3 separate regions of the Homo sapiens genome follow, and all the other regions are reported to be linked to region 2. Evidence: microRNA targets listed by miRTarBase, many of them from high-throughput screens and not tested one by one. Region 2 holds a microRNA gene; each other region holds the end of a gene's coding sequence.
What was found. Region 2 holds the annotated microRNA hsa-miR-6886-3p (UGCCCUUCUCUCCUCCUGCCU, at 2,431-2,451, opposite strand). A microRNA usually pairs through its seed, bases 2 to 8, with sites in the 3' UTR of a target mRNA and lowers its output. Matches are read on the target gene's strand: a 7mer-m8 pairs with bases 2 to 8, a 7mer-A1 pairs with bases 2 to 7 and ends in A, and an 8mer does both.

Region 1 (4,147 bases), not on the chromosome of region 2:
AACCCAGAAGGCGGAGGTTGCAGTGAGCCAAAATTTTGCCACTGTACTCAGCCTGGGTGAAGGAGATTCTGTCTCAAAAATAAATAAATAAATGATATGTAAATAAATAAATAAAAATAAAATCATAGACAGCTACTCAGGAGGCTGAGGTGGGAGGACTGCTTGAGCTCAGGAGTTCAAGGCCAGCTTGGGCAACATAGTGAGACTCCGTCTACATTAAGTCAATCAATCAAGGCAGGTACTTCCATTATCTAAATTTTGTCTTCCAACACATTTTAGGGGGGCTAATAAAGGATGCCAGTCTGTCCAGAAACTTGTATAGAAGGACTGAGTACTTCCTCATTCTGTATATGGCCACATGCAGTTAGCCCATTCCCTTCTTTAAAAAAATTTTTTTCTTTGTAGAGATGAGGTCTTACTATGTTGTCCAGACTGGTTTCAAACTCCTGGCCTCAAGTGATCCTTCCACCTTGGCCTCCCAAAGTCCTATGGTAACAGGTGTGAGCCATCATGCCAGGCCTACATTCCCCTCCTGATGAGTACTTTGGTTGTTTCCAAACGTTTCCTCCGAGAATAATGGCATAGTGAGTAACTTACAAGTGTGTGTTCCTAGAAGTGGAATAGTTGGGTCAAAAGGTATGCATATTTGTAATTTTGAAGAGATTGTCAAATTGTCCTCCAAAGAACTTATACAAATTTAAATTTCCACCAAGATATGAGAATAAATTTTCTGATAATTTTGTCCAGTTATCAAACTTTAATTTTTGCCATTCTGGCAAGTAAAAAATGGAATCTAAGGTAGTTTTAATTTGCATTTTTATTAGCATTAGGGAGGTTTTCTTTTCACATGTTCCAAAGCCCTTTGGGCCATGCACAGTGGTTCACATCTCTAATCCCAGCAACTCAGGAAGATTGCCTGAGGCCAGGAGTTTGAGACCAGCCTGGGCAGCATACCAAGGTCCTAGCTCTACAAAAAAAAAAAAAAAAATTGGCTGAGTGTGGTGACATGCACCTGTATGGTCCCAGCTACTCAAGAGGCTGAGGCAACAGGATTGCTTGAGCTCAGGAGTTTGAGGCTGCAGTGAGCTATGATTGCTTCACTGCACTCCAGCCTGGGTGATAGAGCAAGACTCCATCTCTAGTGGGGAGGAAAAAAGCCCTTTGTATTTTTTTCTATGGTGTATTTATTTGTATTATTATTTTTATTTTGAGACAGGGGTTCACTGTCACCCAGGCTGGAGTGCAGTGGCACAATCTTGGCTCACTGCAATCTCTGCCTCCTGGCCTCAAGCCATCCTCCCACTTCAGCCTCCCAAGTAGCTGTGACTTCAGGCGCACACCACCATGCCAGGTCAATTTTTTTGTTGTTGTTTTTTAGTTTTTAGTAGAGACAAGGTTTCACTATGTTGCCCAGTCTGGTCTCGAACTCCTGGGCTTAAGCAATCCGCTAACTTAGTCCTCCCTAAGTGCTGGGATTACAGGTATGAGCCACCATGCCCAGCCCAGCTATTTTTTTTTTTTTTTTGAGATGGAGTCTCACTCTGTTGCCCAGGCTGGAGTATAGTGGCTTGATCTTGGCTCACTGAAGCATCCACCTCCTGGGTTCAAGCAATTCTCCTGCCTCAGCCTCCCAAGTAGCTGGGATTACAGGTGCCTGCCACCACACCTGGCTATTTTTTGTACTTTTAGTAGAGACGGGGTTTCACCATGTTGGCCAGGCTGGTCTCGAACTCCTGACCTCAGGTGATCCACCTGCCTCAGCCTCCCAAAGTGCTGGGATTACAGGAGTGAGCCACCATGCCCGGCCAGCCCAACTATTCTTATTTGTTATGATATGATCTTTAGAAGTCTGTCTAAGACCTATGTAAATAGTTATTGGACAATGTTTTAAATATAGGTCAAACGTCATTAAAATATCATTGCAAATTAAGTAACTTGCATTTTTAAACTAATTATTGTGGAGAAACAGTATAACACCTTCAAAGTGTAAAATAATTTTATTATTGAAACTGCAATTTAAAAACTTGCAATTAGCTAAATAGAAGCCTATATACTCGTAATAACTAGCATTTTTGGCACTCGGGTACTGTGCTAGACGCATTTTTTTTTTTTTTTTCTTTTTAGACAGAGTCTTGCCCTTGCCCTATCATCCAGGCTGGAGTGCAGTGGCATGATCTCTGCTCACTGCAACCTCTGCCTGCTGGGTTCAAGTGATTCTCCCACCTCAGCCCCCTGAGAAGCTGGGATTACAGGCATGCATCACCACGCCTGGCTAATTTTTTGTATTTTTAGGAGAGATGGGGTTTCACCATGTTAGCCAGGATGGTCTCGATCTCCAGACCTCATGATCTGCCCACCATGGTCTCCCAAAGTGCTGGGATTATAGGCGTGAGCCACCGTGCCTGGCCTAGATGCTTTATACGAACTGATTCAAACCTCCTGCCACTAGAAGGTAGATACTTTTACTGTCCTCAGTTTGAGGGAATTAAGATGGTGAGAAATTGGGCCAAGCAAGGTGGCTCATGCCTGTCATACCAGTACTTAGGGAGGCCAAGGTGGGAGGATTACTTGAGGCCTAGAGTTCAAGACCAGCCTGGGCAAGAAAGCAAGACCTTATCTCTACAAAAAAATTTAAAAATCAGGAAAGCATGGTGGTGTGTGCCTGTAGTCCCAGATACTCGGGAGGCTGAAGCAGGAGGATCCCTTAAGCACAGGGGTTCAGGGTTGCAGTGAGCTATGGTCATAACACTACACTCCAGCCTGGGTGACAGCAACACCACCCTGTTTCTCTCTGTGGGAAATTAAATAACTTGTTCAGGCCCACACAGCTAGTAAGTGATAGAACTAGAACTCAAATCCAGACTTATTTTACTTCGAAACCTGTGTTGAATCATGTTTCATTGAGTTTTTTAGAAATCTTTTTTTTCAACTGGCAAAATAAAGGCAAACTAATTCCAGTAACATCAAATTCACTTAAGTTATTCGCAAGTATGGCAAAGGACTACAAAGTCAGAATAACAGGTGTAATTAACACTTCTGTGTGCTGGCTTTTTGCTCCACACGCCTTTCTAGGCCACCGGCTGCAGTGCTGGGGGTTTACAGTTGCGGACCACTCCTCCCAGACTTCTAGCCAGGTGGCTTCCAGTTTGGTTCTGCTATTTCTTGGCACTGGGGTAAAAATTAGAAGCTTGGAGAAAGTGCAGAGATGTTTCTTCTTTTGGTGGTGGGCTTGGCAGCCTGGACAGCAGCAGTGTTAAGTTGTCAGCAGCACTGGCAAAGAGACTCCTGGGCTTCTGAGCACTGCAGTGGCCACAGCAGCTCCGACAGCTCAGTGGCAAATGTGGGCTCGGGGCTCCAAGCCAAGGGCCGGAGCAGCTCCTGATCTGTGGCTGCAAAGCCCTTCTTCCCTTTTGTCTGGCTCCCGCTTCTACCTCCCTTCTGTTCTTTCAGTCTTTTGAAGAACTTTATAGCCAATCCCTGGCATGAAATTCTTCTCTGCTTGGCATATCTAGAGTGGCTTTTATTTTTCTGACTGATAAACTCTGCCACTAAAATTATACCAATATTTTCTTAGAATAACATTAAAAAGACTGATATTCTTACTTTTTTATATGGAAGACATAGGCTATAAGCACTCAATTTTCTTAAGGGAGAGAGCAAACTTTTTGCACTTTGTTTCCTTCATATATGGTGCAAAAAAGTTGATAGTCTCTATAAATTGCACAAGTGACTGGCAATGAAAAGACTTATTAATTCAGGACATGAGTTCTTTATGGGGCAATTATGCTCATATTGTTTTATTTATTACATGTGGGGTAATGTTAGACAAATAGCTATAATACAGAGATTGTACAATTTAAAAACTGTAATAAATATGGTCCATTAATAGCAGACTCCAAAATTCTTGTCCTTCTTGAAAAAAAGGTTCAGTGATTTACGATAATCCACTAAGAAACATCTAAATGGGAAGAAACACAGAAGTGATTTTTATAAGTCACTTAGTTTTTCAAATTGAAAATGGTCAGATAAACTACAGAACTTAAGTGAAGTGATACAAATCTACATATCAAACTATTTGGCATTTTAGATTAGAGAGAAACAGATTTTAAACGCCACAAATTTATCTCCCGAATCAATACTCTCCCCT
Region 2 (4,000 bases):
AAATGTGGCTTGTTTGGGTTTTTTTTTTTTTTTTTTGAGACAGAGTCTGTCTCTGTTGCCCAGGCTGGAGTGCAGTGGCACGATCTTGGCTTGCTGCAACCTCCACCTTCCAGGCTCAAGCGATTCTCCTGCCTCAGCCTCTGGTGTAGCTGGGATTACAGGCGCCCACCACCACGCCTGGCTACATTTTTGTATTTTTAGTAGAGACGGGGTTTCACCATGCTGGCCAGGCCCGGGAGGCTGAAATCAAGAGGATTGCTTGAGCCCAGGAAGTTGAGGCTACAGTGAGCTATGATCACACCACTGCACTCCAGCCTGGGTGGCAGACTGAGACGCCATCTCGAAAGAAAAAGGAAGAAACACAAGAACACAAGCCATGCGCAATGGCTCGCACGTGTAATCCCAGCACTTTGGGAGACCAAGGCAGGAGGATTGCTTGAGGCTAGGAGGTCAAGACCAGCCTGGGCAACATAGTGAGACCTCATCTCTACTAAAAATAAAATAAATTAGCTGGGCACAGTGGTGTTCACCTGTAGTTCCAGCTACTTGGGAGGCTGAAGTGGGAGAATCAACTGAGCCCAAGAGTTTGAGGCTGCAGTGAACTCTGATTGCGCCACTGCACTCCAGACTCAGTGACAGAGCGACACCCTGTCTCAAAACAAACAAATATGAGACCAGAACACACGCACACAACACACACATTTGTATCTGAGTGGAGACAGTCTGAGAGTCTCTTTCCCTCTGGCCTGGCAGTTATGTGGCCAAACACACTGGGCCACATGTACCCCACCCATTGTTCTGTGGCAACAGCGAGCATTGTCTTGTTTAAAAGAGATCCAGGGTTGGGTTGGGCACAGTGGCTCATGCCTGTAATCCCCGCTGTTTGGGAGGCTGAGGCAGGCAGATTACTTGAGGCTAAGGGTTCGAGACCAGCCTAGCCAACATGGTGAAACCCAGTCTCTACTAAAAATACAAAAAATTAGTCAGGCATGGTGGTACATGCTTGTAATCCTAATTAGTTGGGAGGTTGAGGCAGGAGAATCACTTGAACCTGGGAGGCGGAGGCTGCAGTGAGCCGAGATCACGCCACTGCAATCTAGCCTGGGCGACAGAGCGAGACTCCGTCTCAAAAAATAAAAAATAAAAAGGGGGCCGGGCGTGGTGGCTCACGCTTGTAATCCAAGCACTTAGGGAGGCCGAGGCGGGTGGATCACAGGGTCAGGAGATTTAGACCATCCTGGCTAACGCGGTGAAACCCCGTCTCTAATAAAAATGCAAAAAATTAACCGGGCGTGGTGGCGGGTGCCTGTAGTCCCAGCTACTCGGGAGGCTGAGGCAGGAGAATGGCGTGAACCTGTGAGGCGGAGCTTGCAGTGAGCCGTGATCGCACCACTGCACTACAGTCTGGGCGACAGAGCGAGATTCCATCTCAAATAAATAAATAAATAAAAATAAAAAGGGACGCTGGCCATAGCGGGCCCACCTTCACCCGCAGGCATCTGATGATGCTCTCTTCCCTGCTTTTCCCTTCCAGACACCAAGTGTGCCTTCTCCAGTGTTCTCTGCTGGAAACCCAACATTCACCTCCTGATTGTAGCTGCAAGGACAGTGTGCGTCCCGGGTTGTCAGCACCACACTGAAACTGTGAAATGCCACCTCTCACGTGCTTAGGTAGCAGATGTCACCTGACAGGTACAGAGTACACCGGGCAGGTGGCAGGGGCGATGCTTCCTGCCAGGGGACACAGGTCACAGTGTCTTGACCCAGGAGCTGCTGAGTCAGCCATGGGCTTGGAAGATACCATCCTGTTGTCTAGCCACTAACCAGTTTTTTGTTTAGTTTTTTTTTTTTTTTTTGAGACGGAGTCTCACTCTGTCACCCAGGCTGGAGTGCAGTGGGGCTGTCTTGGCTCACTGCAACCTCCATCTCCCAGGTTCAAGTGATTCTCCTGCCTCAGCCTCCCGAGCAGCTGGGATTACAGGTGCCCACCACCACACCCGGCTAATTTTTGTATTTTTAGTAGAGACGAGGTTTCACCATGTTGGTCAGGCTGGTCTTGATGATCCACCCACCTTGGCCTCCCAAAGTGCTGGGATTACAGGTGCTTTGAGCCACCATGCCCAGCCCACTAACCAGTTCCTGAAGCTCCTTCCTGCTCCCTCCATTCCCTCTGCAGCCCTCAGCGTCGTGGATACGCACCCATGAACAGGATCCACCACGATGGCCCTTGGCTTGGAGCCGTTCTCCCTGAATAACGTTTTCCTCTTCACGCCCTTGGTATCCGCAACAGAGACAGTGCCCAGGACAGAGTCGGTCCAGTAGATGTTGCTGTGGATCCAGTCCACAGCCAGCCCGTCGGGGGCCTGGATGTCTCTGCTGATGACGGTGTCATAGGAAGAGACGCCGTGGGCTCTGTCAAGCTGGGTGCTGAGGCAGGAGGAGAGAAGGGCATCAGCGCCAGGAGCCCTCATCTCACCTGCGGGCCAAGGCTGCAGGCAGGGGCGACGCTCACCTGCAGATCATTCTCTGGGACAGGTCAGACCAGTAGATTCTATTGCTGGCCACCTCCGTGTCCAGAGCGACCACGTTCCTCAGGTTGGGGATGAGGCTGGTGTACTCGCTCCGGTCCAGCGTCATCTTCCTGACCTCGTGCCGGTTGGTGAAGAAGAGGTAGGCGATGGAGCCTGGGGGTCCGGGGAGCGAGGTCAGGGGGTCAGAGGGGACCCGTCGATGGAACCAAGAGTGCCTCCCCATCCCCTTGTGTCATCCTGCAGGGTGCGGCTGAGCCAGAGGAGGCACCCAGAAAAAGAGGGTGGAAAAGACCTCCCAACGGGAACAGGCACAGTGGCGCCCACCTGTAATCCCAGCACTTTGGGAGGCTGAGGGAGGAGGATCACTTGAGGCTAGGAGCATAAGGCTAGCCTGGGCAAGACAATGAGACCTTATTGCCACAAAAAAAAAAAAAAAAAAAAAAGCCAGGCACGGTGGCTCAAGCCTGTAATCCCAGCACTTTGGGAGGCTGAGGCGGGAGAATCGAGACCAGCCTCACCAACATGGTGAAACCCTGTCTCTACTAAACATACAAAAACTAGCCAGGTTTGGTAGCCGGAACCTGTAATCCCAGCTACTCAGAAGGGTGAGGCAGGAGAATTGCTGGAACCTGGGAGGTGGAGGTTTCAGTAAGCCAAGATCGCACCACCGCACTCCAGCCTGGGTGACAGAATGAGACTCTGTCTCAAAAAAAAAAAAAAAAAAATTAACCAGGCATGGTGGCACATGCCAGTACTCCCAGCTCCTCCAGAGGCTTAGGCGGGACGATCACGTGAACCCAGGAGGTCAAGGCTGCAGCGAGCTATGATGGAGGCTGCACTGCACTACAGGCTGGAAGATAGAGCAGCACCCTGTCTCTAAAAAATAATAATAGCCAGGTGTGGTGTCTGTAATCCCAGCACTTTGGGAGGCCAAGGCAGGAGGATCACTTGGGTTCAGGAGTTCAAGACTAGCCTGGCCAACATGGTGAAACCCTGTTTTTACTAAAAATATGAAAATTAGCGGCTGGGCGCAGTGGCTCACGCCTGTAATCCGAGCACTTTGGAAGGCCGAGGTGGGCGGATCACGAAGTCAGGAGATCGAGACCATCCTGGCTAACACAGTGAAACCCCGTCTCTACTAAAAATACAAAAAAATTGGCCTGGTGCAGTGGCGGGCTCCTGTAGTCCCAGCTACTGGGGAGGCTGAGGCAGGAGAATGGCGTGAACCCGGGAGGCGGAGCTTGCAGTGAGCCGAGATCCTGCCACTGCACTCCAGCCTGGGCAACAGAGCGAGACTCCGTCTCGAAAAAAAAAAAAAAAGAAAAAAGAAAATTAGCCAGGCATAGTGGCATGCACCTGAGGTCCCAGCTACTCCGGAGGCTGAGGTGGGAGGATCAACCAATCCTCCTGCCCTCAAGCAATCCTCCCGCCTCAGCCTTCTGAGTAGCTGGGACCACAGGTGTGTGGCA
Region 3 (4,147 bases), not on the chromosome of region 2:
GAGGTTGCGGTGAGCCCACATCGCGCTACTGCACTCCAGCCTGGGCAACAGAGCGAGACTCCATCTCAGAAAATAAACTAATAACTAAATCAACAAATAGATCTGTATGAACCGATACAGAAAGATCTCCAAATCCCATCAAGGAAAAAAAAAAAGTTTCTGAAACTGAGATGACCTTAAAAAAAATTATTTTTGTGTGTAAATTTTCTTAAGAAAAAAAAATCACAGGCCAGGTGTGGTTGCTCACGCTTATAATTCCATCACTTTGAGAGGCAGAGGCAGAAAGATTGCTCGAGCCCAGGAAGTCAAGAACAGCCTGGCCAACATGACGAAAACCCATCTGAACAAAAAATTTAAAAATTAGCTAGGTGTGGTGGTGAGCCTGTAGTCCCAGTTTACTCAGGAGGCTGACGTGCTAGTATCACTTGAGCCCAGGAAGTCTAGGCTGCAGTGAGCTAAGACTATGCTACTGCACTCCAGTCTTGGTGACAGAGCAAGACCCTGTCTCAAAAAATAAAATAAAAATCGCACACACACAGTTTTACTTGAAAGAGTAACAGTGAGTGTTCCTTAATACTGACTTATTTAAGCACGGAAACAATGCTGCTAAATTTGGTTTGCTCCGAAGTGTTGATTTCCATATGTATACAATGGCCCAACACAAAACAAGCATACAAAACGATACTCAATATCCTTGAAAAATCTCAGAGCTGTTTTTACAGTAGGAAATCCAAGGACAATAAAAATACCTTCTTGAAAAACTCTAACAGCTGATATTAAACTCACCAATCTGACAGACTGTAAATTGCTGAACACTCTGACGGGTCTTTAGATACCACTCCGATGGCAAATCAAAAAGACTGTGAACAAACAGGCATCTCATTCCACGAGCAATGACATCCCATCCCGGCACTATGGCCTCCGCGGCAGGACCACCACTCGCAACCGGGGAGGATTTTTTCCTTGTTACAACAACTAGGGAGCACTACCATCATTTAGTGGACAGAAAAAAGCAAGGTCCTCCAACACGTAGGAGCAAGCCACACAAAACGTCCTGCCCCCCAAATGCCAACAGGCTGCTGGCCAGAAACAGTGCTGGTCTGGCCAGGCTCTTATACAGAGGGGACACAGCTTTAGTTTTACCTGATCTGCTGGGGCCCAGACAGGTTAGAACGAAGGCCCGTGAACTCTATGTCCAGACCTGCCAGGAAGGCAAAAAATAGCAGTCCTCGGGTGCAGAACATCGCCAGCACTCCTCACACTGTAGATCTGCAGGCGGCCAAGGCACCCGCGCTCACCTCTGCGCTCAAGAAGCCAAGTGAGGTCAGGAAGGGAAAATGGAGGAACCAAGGCAAGGAGCAGCCAGGCACCTGGGCGCACGGGGCTCTGGCCAACAAGGGACGTGGGGCTCGGAGTGTACTTGCTGCTCAAAGTCCCACCGCCCCGGGGCTGGAGAAGGAAGCCCCCCTGTCCTTCCCGAGGCCCTCTCTGAGGCCCTGTGGCCTGGCAACCGTCCCGCCACCCCCTCCTCAAGCTCGCCCGGGGCAAGGGGCTCTGTCCGGCACAGCCGCGAATCCCAGGCTCTTCACCCACGAAGTCGGCCTCCTGGACGAGCTCCTGCAGCAGAGGGAGGCTCTCCTCGAACTCGTCGGCGCCCACGTCCATGGCCGTGCAGCTCCGCGGAGTCGCCCAGCGCTATCACGTGCTGCCCACGTGCTGCCCACGCGCTTCCGTCGCGCCGCCGGGTCTTAAAGGGCGCACACATGGAAACCAGGCAGCTGCCTCCGCCCCACGTGCCCAGCTTCCCCGTGTGCTGCTGGCGTCGCCCACACCTGCCTGCGGGTGTTTTAATTGTACGATTTGCTACAGAGGTTTGATTGCAATTGCAATCAAAGCCTGTTTACCTGGCTCCTCAGCAATTTCTTTGCAGCCCTTAACGTGAGAATGTCATTTACATGGACTTAGAATGTTAAGAGGCGTGGCAGGAGACGAAGACAGAGTCCAGAAAGGGTGAAATCAGAAAAGCGGAGCAGGAACAACACCGGACGCAACTGCAATAAGCAGATCCTTTGCTGCGGCTCACGGTCTTCTAAATCACCTCTTCCCAACTTCTCCATCACTGCCAGTATGTCTGTCCCCATTCCCTCTCCCACGCCCCTGGACATCTTTTTCCTCATTCTGCTGTCCACCTTACCACTGTCTTCACACCTGCAATCAAACTTTGCAAAGCCTCAAGAACTGCCCATTAAATTGAAGGAATCCTTGGTCCCCAGGGATTATCTCGTGCACTCACTCCTTGCGGAAATCCCTACCTACATCATCACATACATGTGAGCTTAATTTTTACTTTTGTTACTGTTTCCAGTGCAACTAGTCCATGGTCTTCCTTACAGTGTCCTCCCTTGAATTCTAGGCTTCTACTTGAACAGCGTTTTGGAACTATGGTCCTCAAAGTGAGGTGCTCAAATCAATCTTTAAGGTTAGCGGAGAAAACATTACCGTTATACTTTATTTTTTCCTTTTGAGACAGTCTCACTCTGTCACCCAGGCTGGAGTGCAGTGGTGCCATCTCGGCTCTCTGCAATCTCCACCTCCTGAGTTCAAGCGATTCTCCCGCCTCAGCCTCTGAACAGCTGGGATTACAGGCATGCACCACCACGCCCAACTCATTTTTGTTTTTAGTAGAGATAGGGTTAAACCGTATTGGCCAGGCTGGTCTCGAATTCCTGGCCTCAAGTGATCCACCTGCTTCAGCCTCCTAAAGTGGTGGGATTAGAGGTGTGAGGCACTGCATCCGATCTTCAATTATACTTTTAAATGCCTCTCCGGGACATTAATTAAGCAAAAGGGGACTATTAAGCCATTTGATTCTGAAGACCTCTCAGAACAAATCATACTTCATACAGATGTGTTCCATTTAAAATAACACATTGAATACTCAAATTGGCAGAAGTAACATATTTCACTTCTAAACAAACATTTAATTGGGGTATACATTAAAAAAACTGGAAAACAATGCTCTAGAAGCCACCTTAACTGCCTACAGGTTTTTTCTCACATTTATCAAATAGCCAAAAATTAACACCTTAATCAGCTCCTTTCAGAGAACTGCCATGATTCCCATCTACCCAAGCTCAAATTTTAGATTAACTTGCATGCATTTCAAGTTTCATCTCCTATCTAATAAAATGTTCACTTCATGGCAAATTGAGCGCCCACTAACCCCAACCATTTCCACCTCTGCTTTCAGCTCCTGATGCCACCTCCTTCCTCTTTCAAATTTGTTTCTCTTACTGTTGGGAACCAAGAGTCCAAGTGAGGTTGGCATTTGGTCCTTTCATTTTCACATACTGACTGTTCTATAGTATTAGATTGATACTGACATTTCCTATTTTAAAAAACAACCCACACTCCGAGCAGCAAACAACTGTCATTCACTGAGATCACTCGCCATGAACTAGACACAGTAATAAGTGCTTTACATCAACCTCATATGTGCTCCACTGCCACAGTGAGCTCAGACAATGTCATATAACCAGAAAATAAGAGTTCATAATATGCCTTTATTTTGTAATTTATAAACAACTTCTGACTTGCCCTTTGAAAGTTAATTATAATTGATGACTGCTTTTCTTAGATGCTTCTGAAGCCCAAGAGAGGGGCAGAACGTAGTTCTTGATTTAAAAAAACAGAAAGGGGAGGAGGATGACCTTAACTACAAATAATATTCCACTGCAACATTATTGCTGTAAAACTTCCAAGCTGGCTGTTCTTCCAGATGCTCTCTTTTGATGGCTGTAGTGGCTGACAGATTTATATTTACATGTTCAAAACAATTAATGCTTCCATTTATTCATAGATTCTCTGAGGTTCCCGTAGAACCACACCACCTTCTGTCATGGCACTTTGTAGTCGTTTCATCTGGTTTTGAAAATCAGAAAAAAAAGGAAAAGATTAAGTCAGCAGCACGAGTAGGCTGAAAATACTTTCACCTTCCAAAAGACAGAAATAAATTGATTTGTTCTTGCTAACTTCCCAGCCTACAACGGTTTTTCAGAAAGTGATCTTAATAATGATGTAAGTAAAAAGGAAATGTAGAGATGTCAAGGTTCAGCAGCATTTCAAAATATTATATGGACAAGATGTC

Region 1: the mRNA of KNTC1 is a reported target of hsa-miR-6886-3p. The part of its 3' UTR that is shown has no 7-base or 8-base seed match.
Region 3: miRTarBase lists MRPL18 as a target of hsa-miR-6886-3p. Seed matches in the 3' UTR shown: 7mer-A1 at 3,595-3,601.

The regions. Positions count from the first base shown.
Region 1 is chr12:122,626,016-122,630,162 of GRCh38, reverse strand. It overlaps KNTC1 (kinetochore associated 1), which reads right to left. Exons shown (of 64, transcript NM_014708.6): 64 at 3,767-3,958. The coding sequence ends at 3,935. Among named protein-coding and RNA genes, the nearest start is that of MIR9902-1, 68 kb to the left of the region's middle.
Region 2 is chr19:11,111,962-11,115,961 of GRCh38, reverse strand. It overlaps MIR6886 (microRNA 6886), which reads right to left and starts at 2,488; the gene lies at 2,428-2,488. LDLR (low density lipoprotein receptor) reads right to left here. Exons shown (of 18, transcript NM_000527.5): 9 at 2,513-2,684; 10 at 2,200-2,427.
Region 3 is chr6:159,797,826-159,801,972 of GRCh38, reverse strand. MRPL18 (mitochondrial ribosomal protein L18) reads right to left here. Exons shown (of 4, transcript NM_014161.5): 4 at 3,544-3,921. The coding sequence ends at 3,850. It overlaps PNLDC1 (PARN like ribonuclease domain containing exonuclease 1), which reads right to left and starts at 1,697. Exons shown (of 19, transcript NM_001271862.2): 1 at 1,590-1,697; 2 at 1,144-1,201; 3 at 787-860. The coding sequence starts at 1,665.